Linked DNA regions of Homo sapiens. The protein of the gene in region 1 interacts with the protein of each later gene in a biochemical or structural test. Each region holds a gene or a part of one and is shown in the gene's direction. Other genes may lie near its edges.

Region 1 (3,756 bases):
CAGTGTGAGATAATTCCCCAGATTTTGGGCGGTGGCATTGGAAATGGAGAGGAACCTTTTGACCTTACTCCATTAAGAAAGAATTGGTAAATTTATTGACAAAGTAGTTATTTAATATAACATTTATTTCTGATGACCAAAGTTCACTGTATGTTTTATGTCTTTATATTTTCCCAAAATATTAAACTAATTATGATAAAATATACTAATTATGGTATTAGTAATTCCATAGTGTATGTTTTGTGAAAATAGAGGCAAGCTATGAATTTTCAAAATCATTCTTATTAAAATATGCTTAACAAATTGGTGCCATAGTACTTTAAACTTGCTAGTTAACTGTACTCTTTCCTCCCCTTTCAGGTGGATGCCCGGAGCATACCAGTGTTAGCAAAATGGCAAAATTCATATAGCATTAAAGTTGTACTTCAAGAGCTAAGACGTCTAATGATGTCCAAAGAAAATATGAAGCTTCCACAGCCACCAGAAGGACAAACATACAACAATTAATTTTAGTGGATCTCAAACTTGTCTTAAATCAACAACCTTCTACTCATGTTAATGTCTTGATTAAATATCACAATGCAAAATACACATTAAGTAAAAGAATTCCAGCTGGTAAACATGACCTGGACATTTGTAAGAATATATTTAATATATGTACACCCATTATGTTTTCAGGTAACAGGAGGAAAAATGCAGCACAATTTTTTTTCTCTTGAAAGGCACTGTCATTTAAACATAAACCTGGAGTACTCGAAATAGAATTCAGGTTTACAAGATGAAAGCGTGTGGAGAAGTGTCAGATGGCAGTGGAAGCATGTGTGTTTCTAAAAAGTAAAAATCTCAAGAAAACAGAAATGGCATGCTTTACCCATCTTACTTAGTGAAAGAGAGCTGCAGTTGAAATTGTTTAAAAAGTAGCAGGTACAATGAATATTGTCACAGATGTGTTAATTTTTGAAGCAATGTGGGTGCTGACTACTAGTAGTATCAAAAATATGTTCAGGATTGTTTTGATACCTGTATTTATAATAAAAAATGTTGGGGGGAGTTGATGAATTCCTGTTAAAAGCTGTTCTTGTGTGTTACATGTAACAGACATGGTAAATATTTGTTTACAGTCTTTGTTTAACAAACCATGCATTTAAGTTTAAGTGAAGTCAACAAAAAGGAAATAGGTGTATGGATATGTGATTTTGAGATTAAAGTTAGTCTTAAAATGTAAATAAAATGTGAAACGTGTCCTCAGAGACTGTGCCATTTCTATTATGTTGATGTATATGTACAGTACCTTGCCAGGGAAGCAAAAATTGGAATTATTGTAGCTTTTCATGTATACACACTTTTATTTACCCTATTTTGTGTACTTCTTGTGAATTATAATTTGCAGACTATTTCAGAAAAGAAATTATCTAGTTTAATTTCTTCTTTGGACAAGGAGTCCTAGGTATTATATTTTGAGTTTGATTTCACCAGAAATAATAATATTAAAAAGATCTTTGCATTCTGGCAGTTCTTTTAGGATTATAGGTTGCAAATTATCCAAATATATATCCCATTTTTTAAAGCATAATATCTTTTTTAGTTGTTTTTCTGTGAAGCTTTTGGTTAATAAATAGGGTCAACTAATTGGAGACTTTTCTCTTCCAATTAGGGCTTTTAATACTAACAAGGATAACTTTATTCATTCCTCGTATTCTCTACTCTAACAAATATGAACTCTGAAGTTGAAAAGTCATTTATGTTCCGCTTTCACCAAAGTGACGTGAGGCTTTAGGTCACTGTTTCACTTCAAAGTACTGGATCCAAAGCTTTGTTGAAAATGCTGTTTGATGAATTCACTGAAGAATATAGAAAGGTGGTCAGGTAAAGTCTACTTTTATTTTGTCAAGCTTAATAATTTGTGTCATACTTTACCCCAGTATATATAGGCAAACCAAAACCTTATCAAATATTAAATTAGTTGTTTAAACTTTGCTTATAAAGTATTGGCCATGTGGTGGCTCATGCCGCTAATCCCAGCACTTTGGGAGGCTGAGACGGGCAGATCACTTGAGGTCAGGAGCTTGAGACCAGCCTGGCCAACATGATGAAACCCTGTCTCTACTAAAAATACAAAAAATTAGCCAGGTGTGGTGGTGGGTACTTGTAGTCCCAGCTACTCGGGAGGCTGGGCAGGAGAACTACTTGAAACTGGCAGACAGAGGTTGCAGTGCCGAGAGCGCACCACTGCTCCAGCCTGGGCAACAGAGCAAGACTCCATCTCAAAAAAAAAAAAAAAAAGAAAAATATTAATAATTGACCTTGGCTGTATATTAAAATAGTTACTTTTATAGTAGAGCACATTTCTCAAACATGCCCTGAAAGGCTTTTATCAAGCTCATATAAAGTTAAAGCTTTGAGCTACCTTTTCTTGGCCAATAAAGTCACTGACAGTTTATGTAAACATTAATTTCAACATGGCTGTTGCATTTTAATTATCAAAAATGTTTAAAATGCTTTAAGATGACACATAGAGAACATACACATACATACAAATTAGTGCATTTGTAATTTGTTAAATTTGAAATGAACTATTACCTTGAAATATAGTCTTTAAAAATTTTTAATGGTTAAAGATTAAATTGAATGAAACTGTAGTCTAATGGTAACTGATGATCTGAATCCGTCTCTCTGATAACCTCCTTTCCATTTTGAAAATGTGTCTTATTATACATGGAAGCTAGTAACTACGTGAATGCTGTTGGCAGGATGAGGGTCTGGGTACCTCAGTCTCTTGTCCTGTTTCCTTCCCCCAAATCCACCATTGTGAAGTTGCCAACCCCCTGCCGCCTTCCCCTGCCAAGTACATGTTGTCAGAGTCAGCCCTATAATGTTCATTTCCCCTCTTGTTTGTGGGATTATGGATCTCTGCAGAAATCTGCATGCCAATTAACCCATTTCTAAAGCAGAATCCATTTTGCATGTCACAATCAAGATGTACTTGGCAATCTAAGACACACTGGGAGACTGTAAGAGGAATTAATATAGAAAAGCTCTTAATTATAATAACATTTGGAAGAAATTTTTCCTTTGTTTTGTAAAGTGGCTAAGGTTGTAGGAGTGTGTGGTATTTATTACCTTTTAAATGAACTGTAAATTTGCCTTAGAAATTTGTTTAAAAGGCTAGCAAGTGAGACCCTTGAGGATGATCATATACTAATAAAGATTACCAAAAGAAACTTCTTGTCCTGTTAGGTCAGTGTTATGATTTAATGGTTTTAATTACTTAACCAATTTTAAGAATTGACAATTTTTAAAAATATTTTTTTCTACCATTCTAAAGTAATGTCTTTTGTTGTGGGTTTATGTGTAACTACAGGATTTTGGAACATAAACATTTTGAAGGATAGTCAATGGTATTTAGTCTTGGATATAAAAATAGAGAAAATTTATAGCTTTATGTTATTAAAATAATTTATCACACAGAGTGATTTGAGGTTTTCGCAGAGTAGATTTGTTTGACTCATGGTTTATTAGTCTGGATTACTTAAGAACAATATGTTGATTTTAATGTTAATTCCCACTAAATATATAATATTGATAAATACATGTGAAATTAATATTGTTTGGAAAATGTAGAGGACACAGCTGGGAATTATGAATGCTTTTTTCTTAATAGGTTTGGTGTGTGTGGCTTTGAATGGTTCTGCTGATGCATCATGGAAAGACAGCAGGGAACTGTAGCCTGCCATCAAAACTGTATCAACTCTTTTA
Region 2 (3,756 bases), on another chromosome or scaffold:
ATTCTATTTCTCCCCCTTCTCTTTTTTCCTTTTTTTTTTTTTTTTTTTGAGACGGAGTCTCACTCTGTCCCTCAGGCTGGAGTGCTGTGGTGCTATCTCAGCTCACTGCAACCTCTGCCTCCCGAGTAGGTGGGAGTACAGGCGCCTGCCACCACCATGCCTGACTAGTTTTTGTATTTTTTCTTGAGATGGGGTTTCGTCATGTTGGCCAGGCTGGTCTCAAACTCCTGACTTCAAGTGATCTGCCCACCTCGGCCTCTCAAAGTGCTGGGATTACAGGCATGAGCCACCATCCCTGGCCTCCTCACCTTTCTTTGCTCAGGAAACTCCTGTTTATTGTGCACAAATCAATTCATGTAGCTTTCAGCTGGGAGAAGCCTTTTCTGAAATCCCTTTCTTCTCCCTAATTTAATTCCCTTTCCTCTTTGTTGCCATCAAGCCTTATAACTTTTACTATAATTTTCTACTTACAAGTTTCTCTTTCTTACTAGTGGCTGAAATCATTGAAGGCAAGGATTATGTATTTAGTTATGTAAGTTCTGTTTTGTTCCAGAAAGAATTTGTGGTCAGGACATTATCTTATCTTTGTACCTTATTTCTGTGGTGTCTGATATGTAAGTATCCCCCACCCTCCCTGAAAAAGGAATAAACGAATCAGTTGAAGGGAGAAAGCACAGACCAATTCTGATTTTTCTCTTTTCTATTTTTTAGGTTACCAAAAGAGATGAAGACTCTTCCCTAATGCAGCTGAAGGAGGAATTTCGGAGTTATGAAGCATTACGCAGAGAACATGATGCCCAAATTGTTCATATTGCCATGGAAGCAGGACTCCGTATTTCACCTGAACAGTGGTCCTCTCTTTTGTATGGTGATTTGGCTCATAAATCACACATGCAGTCTATCATTGATAAGGTTTGTGAAATTAGAGATGCTGATGTTCTATCATTGCTGTTACATTGAAGAGTATTAGAATATTCTAAAGAGTCTATACACAAACAGTTGGAGATTCCTATGTTTTTAAATGTCAGACTCTTATAAATTATCCTTATTTTCTTTTTATTTTTCTACTTGCAAAATAAAGGGATGCAACAGGGAAACAAATACATGATACTAGCATAAAAGCAGTGAGGCTTACAAAGTCTCAAATTTATCTATATTCTGACCTCAGAGAGTTAATACAGCTTATAAGTTTTCTAAGTGTCTAATGATGAATTTCATAGGGCAGATTCTGAGGTGAAAATTTAATTCATCACTGATACTCCTACTGTGGAATCTGAAGACACTTGAAAACGTATTAAATATGTTGATAAATTGAAAGTATTTGAGTATAAATGTGTCATAAGAACCAAAGTAAAAAGCATTCTCATTTCTGTTTGTTAGCTACAGTCTCCAGAGTCATTTGCAAAGAGTGTCCAGGAATTGACAATTGTTTTGCAACGAACAGGTGACCCAGCTAACTTAAATAGACTGAGGCCTCATTTAGAGCTTCTTGCAAACATAGACCCTAATCCAGGTATGTGGGAATATGCTCAGTTGCTTATATTTTTTTCTACTTTTGAGGTGAATAACACAAGAGAATTACTGCTAACATTCTTCCCCCCCAACCCCCATGCCCTTGGTGGCTTATTTTAGACGCTGTTTCACCAACTTGGGAGCAGCTGGAAAATGCAATGGTAGCTGTTAAAACAGTAGTTCATGGCCTTGTGGACTTCATACAAAATTATAGTAGAAAAGGCCATGAGACCCCTCAGGTAAGTACATTTATTACATTTCTGACTGCTGTTGTCTCTAACTCAGTTTCATCCTGAACATCTTAACCAGCTGTTTTGTTAATTGGACTCCGTATGTGACTCATAAGTTTCTATCATCTCTATTCTTTTGGGAGGAACCCAGTTTTTAGTGTACTTGGTAAACATTTCATAGCACACCAAGAGTTTAGAGGGTATCTTGGGTGTGAGTATACTTTATTGCAGAATATTTTTGACCAAATGTAGATAATTGATTCCAAACGTTTTGTCTCATTCTTTTCTACTGTGGGAAATTGTCATTTTTTTTCTGTATTGAATTTCTATATGTAAATTTATGGAATTTGAATTTTCTTTCTTTTTTTTTTAGACAAAGTCTCACTCTGTCACCCAGGCTGGAGTGCAGTGACGCTATCTCAGCTCACTGCAACCTCTGCCTCCTGAGTTCAGGTGATTCTCCTGCCTCAGCCTCCCAAGTAACTGGGATTACAGGCAAGTGCCACCACGCCCTGCTAATTTTTGTATTTTTTGTAGAGAGGGTTTTACCATGTTGGCCAGGCTGGTCTCAAACTCCTGACCTCAGGTGATCTGCCCACCTCGGCCTCCCAAAGTGCTGGGATTACAGGCGTGAGCCATCGTGCCTGGCCGAAATTTGAATTTTCAAGATACTTTTCAGTGTACTTTAGAAGTTAAGATATAAACCTGGCCAGGCACAGTGGCTCACGCCTGTAATCCCAGCACTTTGGGAGGTTGAGGTGAGTGGATCACTTGAGGCCAGAAGTTCGAGACCAGCTTGGCCAACATGGTGAAACCCCATCTCTACTAAAAAAAAAAAAATACAAAAATGAGCCAGGCATTGTGGTGGATGCCTGTAATCCCAACTACTGAGACGGCTGAGTCAGGAGAATCGCTTGAACCCGGGAGATGGAGGCTACAGTGAGCCGAGATCGCGCCACTGCACTCCAGCCTGGGCGACAGAGTGACTCTTGTCTCCAAAAATATAAAATAAAAAGAAGTTAAGATATAATCCTTTATACTTATAACTTCTATTTAATAAATTATTATGAGCCATTCACTACATTCAATGTTTTACATGTATTATTTCTTATCCTCACAGCCACCTGCAATGTAGTTGCTGTTTCCAAGCTGAAATTCAAAGAGGTTAAATAACATAAGATTGTGCTGTCAGGGGGCTGGGCGCGGTGGCTCATGTCTATAATCCCAGCACTTTGGGAGGCTGAGGCGGGCGGATCACAAGGTCAGGAGATCGAGACCATCCTGGCTAACATGGTGAAGCCCCATCTCTACTAAAAATACAAAAAATTAGCCGGGCGTGGTGGCAGGCGCCTGTAGTCCCAGCTACTTGGGAGCTCTCTGAGGCAGGGAGAATGGCCTGAACCCGGGAAGTGGAGCTTGCAGTGAGCTGAGATGGCGCCACTGCACTCCAGCCTGGGCAACAGAGCAAGACTCCGTCTCAAAGATAAAAATAAAAAATAAAAAAGGTTGTGCTGTCAGTAAGAGCTGGGATCAAACCTACACTTTGTACTCTTCTCTCCTTATTCTTAGAAGATATTATAACTTAAAATATTAAAAACAAATGTTTTCATCCTAGGCTCATAAGAATAAGAATGTCTTAGATTTTGATGCAAATTGTAGAAGTAATAGTGAAATTTTAATATTCTGCCTCATTGTATGAACTCAAATAGTTTAAGCCTGAGAGTTGCACCCTCAAGCTGACAAGTGAATTGGTAATTTTTCACTTCTAGGTGGAATTGTATTCTACCTTTTCTGAGAAAGTTTAAGTAGACAAAGCTTTTGGTTTTTTTTTAATGCTTTTTAAAATTGTTTGATTTTGGTAGCAGAATTTTAAGACAGCAATAAATTGATGAAAAAATATTTTCTTTTTCTGGGCATTCTGTTAACTAATGAATAAATGGACATAACATTTGAACCAGTTTCGAATAATCTTCAGAAGGAATATCTGAAGTGCCAATTCAGGGTTATGTCACAT
Region 3 (3,756 bases), on another chromosome or scaffold:
TTTGCTTGGCACTTAAGTCAACACTTTCTGTTCACTCTGTGGGTAATGATTTATATTAGTGGTTAGTTAACTTCAAGTGGGCAGAGAGAATGGGGTGTTTGTGACCCAGAAGGTTTATTTTTGAAGTAATGTTGGCCAACTAGGAAGAGAATTTGTGATCACTTACTGAACTTTCTTCTAGTTGGCAGAGAAACTCCTTTACAAAAGTACTGTTGACTCCTCAAATGTTTTGTCACTAATAAAGTCTCCATATTACTACTAAATATTTTTAAGAGCTATTTAAAAATGTTATACAAATCTCATATATATAAATCTTAGAACCAAATAATTAGAACTTTGTTAAAGAACAAGTAGCTTAGTAAATAGATTGCTAAATGAAACAAACTTCAAGTCCTTGTCCCAAAATACATAATTGTGTTTAAAAATATAAATTTTAGAGTTACAGAAACAAAGTCCACTAAGGCAAATATAGTATATAGCTCATATTTTCTAGTAATGAAATCTGAAATCAGCCCTTACATTAAATCTTGCTGAAATGAAGTCAGTAGTTAAAGGTATAATTATAATTAATTACCTCTAGGACCCACCAGTCTCACAGCTTTAGCATTATGTTATCTTTCAGTAGGGTCAAGTTTGCAGAATTAGCCTTTCAGATTTGAGTAGAAAATTTAAAAAAAAAATGTTTTTTTTGTAGACAAATGACTTGGAATATATTGACTTAACTATCAGTAACTTCTTTCTGAGATTTCCTACTCATTACTATTTTAATTCCAAGTTATTTTCATATTATTATAAATTCAATGGGTTAATTTTATATTTAAATATACCTTTAAAAGTTAATTTCAGAGGTTCCACACATAACATTTAGGTAATTTAAGATAATATGCACAATTTTTTAAGTGATAGCTAGCTGTAAACTCAGAAATAAAACTGTGTATGTATCTACAGCTATTTGGCCCTTTCTCTTGCAATTTTTTTAGAACTGTTTTGCATTTCCATAAAGAAGGAAAGTTAATTTCAATAAGCAATTCAGAATACTGAAAGCAAAACACTGTGTAACTACTGACTGTTGTTTGTATCAGGGAAAAGTGGTGAATTATTTTATTCCGTCACATTATTTTGGAGGAAAACTGAAAAAGACAGAAATCCAGAATATCGAATTTGAACCAAAAGAAAAAGTTCAATGCCCTCGTAAGTAAGACATCTCTTAAAGGAAATACCTTCTTATAGTGATCTTTGCTAGAGTTCTTGCAATCCTTAGAGATATCTTGTAATTGTTATAAACAATTGTTTTTACAGTTATATATGCTTTTGATAAATGAATTCAATTACAAGTCATAATATCTTAACAAAAGTAAAGATGTATTATTTTGTTTGACTTGGCCCAGGTAGTTCTTGCTCAGTCTGTTATATTTAAATCTCTTTAGCTTACAGTTTAAACCAGGCTTTATTTATCTTTTAGGAAATGAATGTTTCGCATACTAATGGTAGCGTATACTTAAATAATTGTGAGAGTTTTCTTTTATAATTTTGAATGATTGTTTTATAGTATTAACAATTCAATATGAGTAATTCTTCCTTTGATTATTTTTATTACAGTAATTTGTTTCTTAATATGCTGAGATACATTTTTATTACATATTTTTTCAAAATGGCACTCTGCTGTAATAAATCTTTGATTTATTTCTTTCTTAACTCAGTCCTCATGCAGATTAAGATTAACCAAGTTTTACTTTCTTTTCATTTTAATTATTTTGACTGATTTAGCATATCCTTTTACATTTAGCTACACGTGTGATGATACTGACAGCTGTGAAAGAAATGAATGGAAAAAAAGGAGTGTCCATCCTTTCCATCTATAAGTATGTCAGTTCTATATATAGATACGATGTTCAACGGAACAGGAGTCTTTTGAAACGGATGCTGAAATGTTTAATTTTTGAAGGTCTCGTGAAACAGATCAAAGGCCATGGTTTTTCTGGGACTTTTACATTGGGAAAGAATTACAAGGAAGAGGATATATGTGATAAAACAAAAAAGCAGGTAACAGAGCTTAAGTTCAGCTCTATATTAAGTACACGTATGTGATACCTTACTGAGTACATTGACAGATCCCACCTTGAAACTGAAACTCTTACGATCTGAAGATAAAAAAATAGGAAAAGTACTTATATCTGTAACTTCTACTTTCTACTTTGTGGATATAAACTCCGTGAGAGTAACTTTACTTTGGCTATCATTAAACCTAGAGAATAATGCTTGGCACGTAACAAATACTCAGATATTTATTGAGTGAATTAAAAAACTAGTTGGCTAAGCGTATTATAGAGTATAAAGCATCTTCTGTATTATTTATTTTTATTATTTTTTTAAGACACAGGGCATCTATTGCCCTGGCTAGAATGCAGTGGTCATAGCTAGCTGCAGCCTTGAACTCCTGTGCCAAGCTGTCATCTTGCCTTAGCTTCCCAAGTAGTTGTGAGTACAGGCTCATGTCACCATGCCTGGTTAATTTTTCTTGTTTTTTTGTAGAGACGGGGTTCTCACTATGTTGCCCAGGCAGGTCTGGAACTTCTAAATTCTCATTTTCTTTATATTATTATCTTATACAATTTCTGCATTTTGTTAGAAAACTGCTTCTGTTGGGCCAGTAATTTCAATTTGCTTTTAGGAAAATAGTTATAATATTTGCAATCATAAATAAAGATTAATGACAACAAGTCAAAATGTGGAGCTACCAGCTCGGCCACCAAGAAAAAGACAAAAAATTTATTTTCTGGAGTAGGGAGTCTATATTATCCTTGGGTAGCACTGAAGACAGCAGTGAACTGTGCTTTTGGTAATCCTGCTACCACCAAAACTAGAAGATTTCCCTCAGTTAATGCCATTGATTACATGTTGTGTCTTAACTCCCCTGTTCGACCTCAGCCCTGATATGCCTTGGAGGAAGCTGTCCCTATTAACTACCTGCCTATCATACTCCCACTATGTTGTACAACCCTCTTAGGTATTCCCATAGCATCATTTTACTTTTTACTGTTCTCACTTTTCCAGTAGACCCCTTTGAAACCGGGGGCCAAATATTGTTCATATTTGTGTCCCTAGCATCTAACACAACTACTGGCACAGAATTGGCATTTAATAAGTAATTGTAAGAGAGGACATATGTAGAAAAGGGAAGGAAAGAAGGAATCAATTTGCTAATTGCAGTAACCAGTGGATTATCTTTTACTTTCTTTGGATGCTATATTTTAGTACTTGGTGTTTTTGTAGTTGCCCTGATTTGTATATTTATGTACTCGAAAAGTACTAGTCTTGTATTGATTTAGGTAGACTAAATCATAGTAGGTAAATAACAAAATATCAGTAGCTTCCTTTATCTTTCTAATTTTTCATCTCTCCAAATCTGACACTTGTAGAGCCTTCCTTTTGTTTTGAGATGAAGTGAGGGTCCTTACAGAGGGCAGATTGGAAGCCACTTATCAGGAGTGATTCTCCTCAGGGAAAAGGGTAGCAAAGACTGGCTGCTACATAATTATATGAAGTACTTACATAAAGTCAGGAGTTTAATTTCAGAAATGCAACTAGTTGCAATCAATTAATTAAATATTTTTTTCATAGGCAGTAGGGAGTCCAAGGAAAATTCAGAAAGAAACTAGAAAATCAGGGAACAAGGACACAGATTCTGAATACTTGCCATCAGACACCTCTGATGATGATGATGATCCTTACTATTATTATTATAAGTCCAGGAGA

Evidence for each region.
Region 2: the proteins of UBE2V2 (region 1) and RC3H2 form a complex in vitro, tested with the Homo sapiens proteins (one study listed by BioGRID).
Region 3: the proteins of UBE2V2 (region 1) and SHPRH form a complex in vitro, tested with the Homo sapiens proteins (one study listed by BioGRID).

What each region holds. Positions count from the first base shown.
Region 1 is NC_000008.11:48,060,322-48,064,077, forward strand, and holds part of UBE2V2 (ubiquitin-conjugating enzyme E2 variant 2), read left to right. Parts: intron 1-360; coding exon 361-507; 3' UTR 508-3,756. UniProt on the Homo sapiens protein: Has no ubiquitin ligase activity on its own. The UBE2V2/UBE2N heterodimer catalyzes the synthesis of non-canonical poly-ubiquitin chains that are linked through 'Lys-63'. This type of poly-ubiquitination does not lead to protein degradation by the proteasome.
Region 2 is NC_000009.12:122,877,750-122,881,505, reverse strand, and holds part of RC3H2 (roquin-2), read left to right. Parts: intron 1-711; coding exon 712-912; intron 913-1,186; exon of another isoform or gene 1,187-1,293; intron 1,294-1,380; coding exon 1,381-1,513; intron 1,514-1,632; coding exon 1,633-1,751; intron 1,752-3,756. UniProt on the Homo sapiens protein: Post-transcriptional repressor of mRNAs containing a conserved stem loop motif, called constitutive decay element (CDE), which is often located in the 3'-UTR, as in HMGXB3, ICOS, IER3, NFKBID, NFKBIZ, PPP1R10, TNF and in many more mRNAs.
Region 3 is NC_000006.12:145,943,668-145,947,423, reverse strand, and holds part of SHPRH (E3 ubiquitin-protein ligase SHPRH), read left to right. Parts: intron 1-1,082; coding exon 1,083-1,191; intron 1,192-1,786; coding exon 1,787-2,043; intron 2,044-3,621; coding exon 3,622-3,756. UniProt on the Homo sapiens protein: E3 ubiquitin-protein ligase involved in DNA repair.